2 linked regions of the Homo sapiens genome follow. The protein of the gene in region 1 purifies or fractionates together with the protein of each later gene. This does not show direct contact. Each region holds a gene or a part of one and is shown on either strand. Other genes may lie near its edges.

Region 1 (3,816 bases):
TTGCCTTATTATCCTGGCTAAGACTTATGGTACAAAGTTAAATAAGAGTGATGATGGCAGACATCTTTGCTTTGTTTCAAATCTTCTGAAGCAAGTATTTGGTGTTTTATAATTAAGTATGATATTAGCTTTAGGTTTTAGTATACCTCTTTATCATACTGACAAACTTCCCTTCTGTTCCTAGTTTGCTGAGAATTTTTGTAATGAATAGTGATTGGATTTTGTCAGTTTTTTCTGCATCCATTGAAATGATCATATTTTAGTCTTATTCTGTTGACTTGGTGAATTACAGTGATTGATTTTTTCTTTTTTTTTTTTTTTTTGAGACGGAGTCTTGCTCTGTCGCCCAGGCTGGAGTGCAGTGGCGTGATCTCGGCTCACTGCAAGCTCCACCTCCCAGGTTCACGCCATTCTCCTGCCTCAGCCTCCCGAGTAGCTGGGACTACAGGCGCCCGCCACCACGCCCGGCTAATTTTTTGTATTTTTTAGTAGAGACAGGGTTTCACCGTGTTAGCCAGGATGGTCTCGATCTCCTGACCTCGTGATCCGCCTGCCTCAGCCTCTCAAAGTGCTGGGATTACAGGCATGAGCCACTGTGCCCAGCCAGTGATTGATTTTTCTAATGTTAAACCAACCTTTCTGGGATAAACCCCACTTGATCATGATGCTTTATTGTTTTTATATATTATTGAATTTGATTTGCTAATATTTCCTAAAGGATATTAGTATCTGTGTTTATGAGGAATATTGTTCTTACACTTTTCTTCTCTTGTGATGTCTTTGTCAGGCTTTGTTATAAGGATTATACTAGCCTCATAAAATAGGCTGGAAAATGTTCCTTCCTCTGTTTACTGAAAGATTTTGTTTAATATTGGTATTATTTCTTGCTTGTTTGCTAAAATTTGTCTTTTCTTTAGCTCTATTTCTGCTAATTTTTTTTAAACTTTGTTATTGGATACAAGCATATGTATTATGATGAGTTAACTCATCTTGTCATGATAAATTGTCCCTCTTCATCTCTGCTAAGACTCCTTGACTTGAAGTCTATTTGAATGATTCATTTTTAATCTAGCTAATGTTTATTTGGTCATTTCTTTCTGTCATTTTCGGCCTTTGTATTTAAAGTGTGACTTTGTGGACAGCATATAATGGGTCTTGCTTTTTTAACTAGCTTGACAATCTTTTAGTTGGAATGCTTAGTCCATTTACATTTAATGTAAGTATTGATGTGATTAGATTTAGGTCTGCCATTTTACCATTTGTTTTCTGTTTGTCTTACATATTTTCTTGTTCCTCTGTTCCCCCTTCACTGGCTTCTTTCAGGTTAATGGAATACTTTTTAGTATTCCATTTTAATACCTTTGTTGGCCTTTTAGCTTTACTCTTGTGTGTTTGTGTTGGGGGGGGAGGGTGTGTGTGAGAGATTACGTTATGCAGTTTTACCTTATCACATTCTATTTAGAGTTAATATTATACTTCATGTAAAATCCTGGAATATTACAAAAGTATAGTTCTGTTACCCCAGCCTTTGTGCTATTATACATACATTATAAACCTCACAATACTGTGTCATAGTTTTTGCTTTAAAGAGTTATATGTGTTTCATTTCATTTCCTTTGGATATATACCTGGAAGTGGTATTGCTAGTTCATACAGTAGTTCTGTTCTTAACTTTTTGAGGAACCTCCTCCGTACAATTTTCCATAATAGCTGCACCAGCCAGGTGCTGTGGCTCACGTCTGTAATCCCAGCACTTTGGAAGGCTGAGACGAGTGGATCACGAGGTCAGGAGTTCAAGACCAGCATGGCCAACATGGTGAAACCCCGTCTCTACTAAAATTACAAAAATTAGCTGGGCCTGGTGGCGGGCGTCTGTAATCCCAGCTACTCGGGAGGCTGAGGCAGGAGAATGGCTTGAACCCAGGAGGCCGATGTTGTGGTGAGCCGAGATCACGCCACTGCACTTCAGTCTGGGCGACAGAGTGAGACTGAGTCTCAAAAAAAAAAAAAAATAGCTGCACCAGTTTACATTCCCACCAGTAGTATGCAAGAGTTGCCTTCTCTTAAGAGGCTGAGGCAGGAGAATTGCTTGAACCTGGGAGGCAGAGGTTGCAGTGAGCCGAGATCACACCACTGCATGCCAGCCTGGGCGACAAAGCGAGACTCCATCTCAAAAAAAAAAAAAAGAGTTGCCTTCTCTTCTACTAATTAATTAATAGAAAAATATGTTTACCATTTTTCTTGTTCTCAGTCTTTCTTGTAGATCAAAATCCATTTGATGTTTTTTCCCTTTTGGCCTAAAAACTTCCTTTTAACATTTGTTATAGGTGTACTGCTGACAGATACACTTAGATTTCATGTATATGAAAATGTTTTTGTCTTGCCTTCATTTTTGAAGAATACTACTGCTGGATATAGAACTTTGGGTTGACAGTGTTGCCGTGGTTTTGCTTTGGTTTATTTTAAATTCATCACTTTAAGGACATTGTTCTATTGTCTTCTGGCCTCCATTTTCTCAGTTAGTGTCATTTATATCATTCTTGTCTATGTAAATTGTCATTTGTTTTTCTTCTGCTTACACTGCTTACAAAATTTTCTCTTTATTTTTGTTCATGCTGCGCATAGATGTGGTTTTCTTAGTATTTATCTTATTTATCTTGTTTGGGGTTTGCTGAGTTTCTTAAATTTGTACTTTTTTTAACCAAGTTTGAAAATTCTTGGCTGTTATTTTTTCAACAAAGATTTTATGCCCATTTTTCACTTGTTATTTTACTTAATGTTGGCCCACAGGTCACTGAGGTCTTGTTCAATTTTCTTCAATCTTTCTTCTGTGTGTTCTTTAAATTAGATCATTTCTATTGACTTATCTTCACGTTCACTGATTCTTTTTTCTCTTTTTTTCTTTTCTTTTTCTTTTTTTTTTTCTTTTTTTTTTTTTTTTTTTTTTTTTTTTGTGACAGGGGTCTTAGCTCTGTCACCGAGGCTGGATTGCAATAATGTGATCATAGCTCACTGCAGCCTCAACCTCCCAGGCTCAAGTTATCCTCCCACCTTAGCCCCCTGAGCAGCTGGGACTACAGGTGTGTGCCACCACACCCAGCTAATTTTTTTTTATTTTTTGTAGAGACAGGGTCTCACTGTGTTGCTCAGGTTGGTCCTGAACTCCTGGGCTCAAGTGATCCTTACACTTCAGCCTCCCAAAGTGTTGGGATTACAGGTGTGAGCCACCATACCTGGCCTGATTCTTTTTTCATCTCCAATCTCTGTTTGCCTATGCAACAAATTTTTCATCGTAATCACTGTTGTTTTTAGTTATAGAATTTCCATTGCCTTCTTTTTAATAGTTTCCATTGTTCTGAGATTCTCAATTTGTTCATTCACTGTCACTGTATATTTTCCTTTACATCCTTGAGCATATTTATGATACATCTGTGAGGTCCTCGTGTGCTGACTTCTTTGTATTTTATGTTTGGTAATTTTTTATTGTATGCTTAACATCATAATAGAGACATAGAGAGTAGGGATTCTGTTACATATCTATGAAGAAAAATTAATTTTCTTCTGGCCTGCAGTTAACCTGGCTGGGCTCAAACTCAACTCTGTCTCCCCTACATTGGGCAGCAAAATCTCTGCTCAGTTTTTTTAGCTTCCAGCTGCTACTTTTTGCCAGGCTCCCTGGAGTTTCCCCCTGTGCACGTGTGGTTCAGGGATCAGCCCTGGAATTGAACAGAGTTTAGGTATAAACTTTGGGGCTCATCCCCTCTGTGTCTCCTTTCTTCCTGGCATTTCCCCTGGTCTCTCCACCAGCCCTGATTC
Region 2 (3,816 bases), on another chromosome or scaffold:
GGTATGAGCCAAATCATGAATGCAGTCTGAGAAAAAGTGTGTGCAGGTGACAGTGGAGAGAGACACAGTTTCCTTGGAAAAAAACATGATGAAGGTAAATCAAGGGAAATAGAGCAGAAATGTGGAGACCCTCTTTCTAGGCCCCCATGTTGCTCTGCACTGGGCATTGCCAAAACCCCGTTTTCGGGTCTGTTCACACACTTGCTGGGTGGTTGGAAGCTAGTGGCCAAGTCTGTGCAATGAAGTGGTTGAGTCACCTGACTTCTGAGTCCCTTTTGGGTTTATCGTTCAGTGCCTCCTGCAGAAGGACCACCCACAGTGGTTGTAGGAAGGTGGCCACCCTGTGATGTGTGAGTTTAGCCTGGATAGAAGACACTTGACGTGGGGCAAAATTAAGGGAAACAGGAGGCTTGGCCCTTCCACAGGCAACAATGAGTTTCAGCTTTCTTGATCCGTTGACATTACCATGACCAGGACCACCTTCCTAGTCATGGTTTGGCCATGAAGGACTGACTGCCCACAGGGCCGCAGTGGTGGTGAAGACCCAGGTCCTGGTCACAGGGACTTGAGGTCTGGCTGTGGGACAGTCCGGAAACAAGTGCAGATGTCGGGGAGGGGGTCATGGGCTCTGACAAGGAAACTTGCAGAGTATCCAAAGCACAAGGGGACGAACCTGTTCACCAGCGGGGCACGGGTGGGTGTCCCCGCTCAGCCAGCTTCCGGAGGATGGGCAGTGAGAGAGTGAGAGAAGGAAAGGGGCAGCCAGGCTGGGGGCTTACGGTGTTGAGAGAGAGGGCAGGTGTGGGAAAGCAGGGTACGGTTTCTACGGCAGCAAACAGTTCCGAGTGACTGGAAAAAAGACAGTTGTCTTCATTCATCAGGTTGCCATAACAAAACACTGCAGGCTGGTTGGCTTATAAGCAAAAGGAAGGTTCACCTTACGGTTCTGGAGGCTGGGAAGTCCATGATCCAGGCTCTGGCAGATCTGGTGTTTGGTGAGGGCCTGTTCCCTGGTCGATGGTGCCTTCTCACTGTGTCCTTACATGGTGAAGAGGCAAGGCAGCTCTCTGGGGTCCCTTTCCTAAGGACAGCAATCCCACTCCTGAGGGCTCCACCCTCATAACTTAACCACACCTCAAAGGCCCCATCGCCTGATACGTCATGTTGAGGGTTAGGATTTCAGCGTATGGATTTTGGGGCACACAAACATTCAGACCATAGAAATGGGAGAAGAAGAGTAAGACAGAGAGAAAAGTAGGCAGAACTACTCATTAAGAGTGAGGTGGAAGGTGGAGAGGGCAGGGAGACCTTATGAAGATCACACATCTGTGAGGAAGGTTTGCACACTCTCACTGAAGCCCCGGTAGGAGGCTCAGCACCCATTTCTCTAGATAGCACCTTCCTTCCTCTGAGGACAGATTCTGACTGGAGCCCTGGTAGGGGGCTCAGCACCCATCCCTCTAGATGGCACCTGCCTTACTCTGAGGACAGACTCTCACTGAAGCCCCGGTAGGAGGCTCAGCACCCATTTCTCTAGATAGCACCTTCCTTCCTCTGAGGACAGACTCTGATTGGAGCCCTGGCAGGGGGCTCAGCACCCATTTCTCTAGATAGCACCTTCCTTCCTCTGAGGACAGACTCTCACTGAAGCCCCGGTAGGAGGCTCAGCACCCATTTCTCTAGATAGCACCTTCCTTCCTCTGAGGACAGACTCTGATTGGAGCCCTGGCAGGGGGCTCAGCACCCATCCCTCTAGATGGCACCTGCCTTACTCTGAGGACAGACTCTCACTGAAGCCCCGGTAGGAGGCTCAGCAACCATTTCTCTAGATAGCACCTTCCTTCCTCTGAGGACAGACTCTGATTGGAGCCCTGGCAGGGGGCTCAGCACCCATTTCTCTAGATAGCACCTTCCTTCCTCTGAGGACAGACTCTCACTGAAGCCCCGGTAGGAGGCTCAGCACCCATTTCTCTAGATAGCACCTTCCTTCCTCAGGACAGACTCTGACTGGAACCCTGGTAGGGGGCTCAGCACCCATCCCTCTAGATGGCACCTGCCTTACTCTGAGGACAGACTCTGACGGGAGCCCTGGTAGGGGGCTCAGCACCCATCCCTCTAGATGGCACCTGCCTTACTCTGAGGACAGACTCTGACTGGAGCCCTGGTAGGGGGCTCAGCACCCATCTTTCTAGATGGCAGCTGCCTTACTCTGAGGGCAGGAGCTTGCTTTGTATGTTCCAGTCCCTTCTGAGAACCAGAAGCCTGAGCATCTATTAGAAATGCAGGATTGTGGACCCAATCTTAGACCTAGAGAGCTAGACTTTGCATTTGAATGAGAGCTACAGGTGATTCAAAGGTGACTGCATGTGTGGGTGCAGTGGCTCTTGCCTGTAATCCTAGGTTTTGGGAGGCCAAGATGGGGGGATTGCTTGAAGCCAGGAATTCAAGTCCTACCTGAGCAGCAAAGTGAGAGCACCTCTCTACAGAAAAACAAAAGCAAAAATGTGACTGCATGTTGGAGCCACCTGGCTTTTTTTAAATAAAAAAGATCCATATAGCTGGACACAGTGACTCGTGCCTGTAACCTCAGCTACTCGGGAGGCTGAGGCAAGAGGATTGCTTGAGCCCAGGAGTTTGAGGCTGCAGTGAGCTATGATCATGGCACTGCATTCCAGCTTGGGTTTCATCTGAAAAAAAATTTAAAAAATTCATCTAGTTCCACCTCAGAGCTTCTGATTTTATTTCCATGGATGTGGCCTGGGCTTGCGATTTTCTTTTTCTTTTTTTTTTTTTTGAGATGAAGTCTTGCTCTGTTGCCCAGGCTGGAGTGCTGTGGCATGATCTTGGCTCACTGCAACTTCCACCTCCCAGGTTCAAGTGATTCTCCTGCCTCAGCCTCCCTAATAGCTGGGATGACAGGCTCGTGCCACCACACCCAATTAATTTTTGTATTTTTAGTAGAGAGAGGGTTTCACCATGTTGGCCAGGCTGATCTTGAACTCCTGACCTCAGGTGATCTGCCCGCCTCGGCCTCCCAAAGTGCTGGGATTACAGGTGTGAGCCACCATGCCCAGCCTGGCCTGAGGATTTTTGTGAGCACTCCTGATGCTGTTGTGTAGCCAGGAGTGAGGACTGCCCTCTGATCACCCAGCACAGAACGTTCAGGGCCATGTTGGGACAGTGGACTGGTAAGGGCGAGAGGAGGACACTGGGGAGCAGGCTGTAGGGTGCCACAGTCCGCCACAGTCACAGGCTCATGCTCTCCGTCCGAGAGGAGGCAGAACTGCTTTTACCAAGGCTCATCCAGCCCTCTTCATTTCTCTGGGAACAATTTTTGGTTTCGTGACCCATTTCTTAATCCCCGGAAGGCATTTCTCTGAACTGGTGCCAGGCACCCCGGCCCCCAGCTCCAGTTAGTTATTATTCGAGGCTGATTTCTTTTCTGTCTGTCTTCCTTCTAATTCCTAGATTGGTGAACAGCCACCTCACTTCCAGTTTTTGCCGGGGCCTCTTTTCAGTTCTGAGCACCAGCCAGAGTCTAACTGAATTGGACCTCAGTGACAATTCTCTGGGGGACCCAGGGATGAGAGTGTTGTGTGAAACGCTCCAGCATCCTGGCTGTAACATTCGGAGATTGTGGTGAGTCCCCGTGCATGTGATCTGTGTGAGTGCAAGTTCATATGAGAGAGAGAGAGAGAAACAGACTGGAGAAAGATCTTCAGGACCAGGTTGCTGGTGTGGTTTCTTTCTTTTCTTTTTCTTTTTTTCTTTTTTTGAGGCAGAGTTTTGCTCTTATTGCCCAGGCTGGAGTGCAAT

The links.
Region 2: the proteins of USP30 (region 1) and NLRP3 purify together in Homo sapiens (affinity purification with western blotting; one study listed by BioGRID). This does not show direct contact.

The regions. Positions count from the first base shown.
Region 1 is NC_000012.12:109,076,427-109,080,242, forward strand, and holds part of USP30 (ubiquitin carboxyl-terminal hydrolase 30), read left to right. Parts: intron 1-3,816. UniProt on the Homo sapiens protein: Deubiquitinating enzyme tethered to the mitochondrial outer membrane that acts as a key inhibitor of mitophagy by counteracting the action of parkin (PRKN): hydrolyzes ubiquitin attached by parkin on target proteins, such as RHOT1/MIRO1 and TOMM20, thereby blocking parkin's ability to drive mitophagy.
Region 2 is NC_000001.11:247,426,117-247,429,932, forward strand, and holds part of NLRP3 (NACHT, LRR and PYD domains-containing protein 3), read left to right. Parts: intron 1-3,468; coding exon 3,469-3,639; intron 3,640-3,816. UniProt on the Homo sapiens protein: Sensor component of the NLRP3 inflammasome, which mediates inflammasome activation in response to defects in membrane integrity, leading to secretion of inflammatory cytokines IL1B and IL18 and pyroptosis.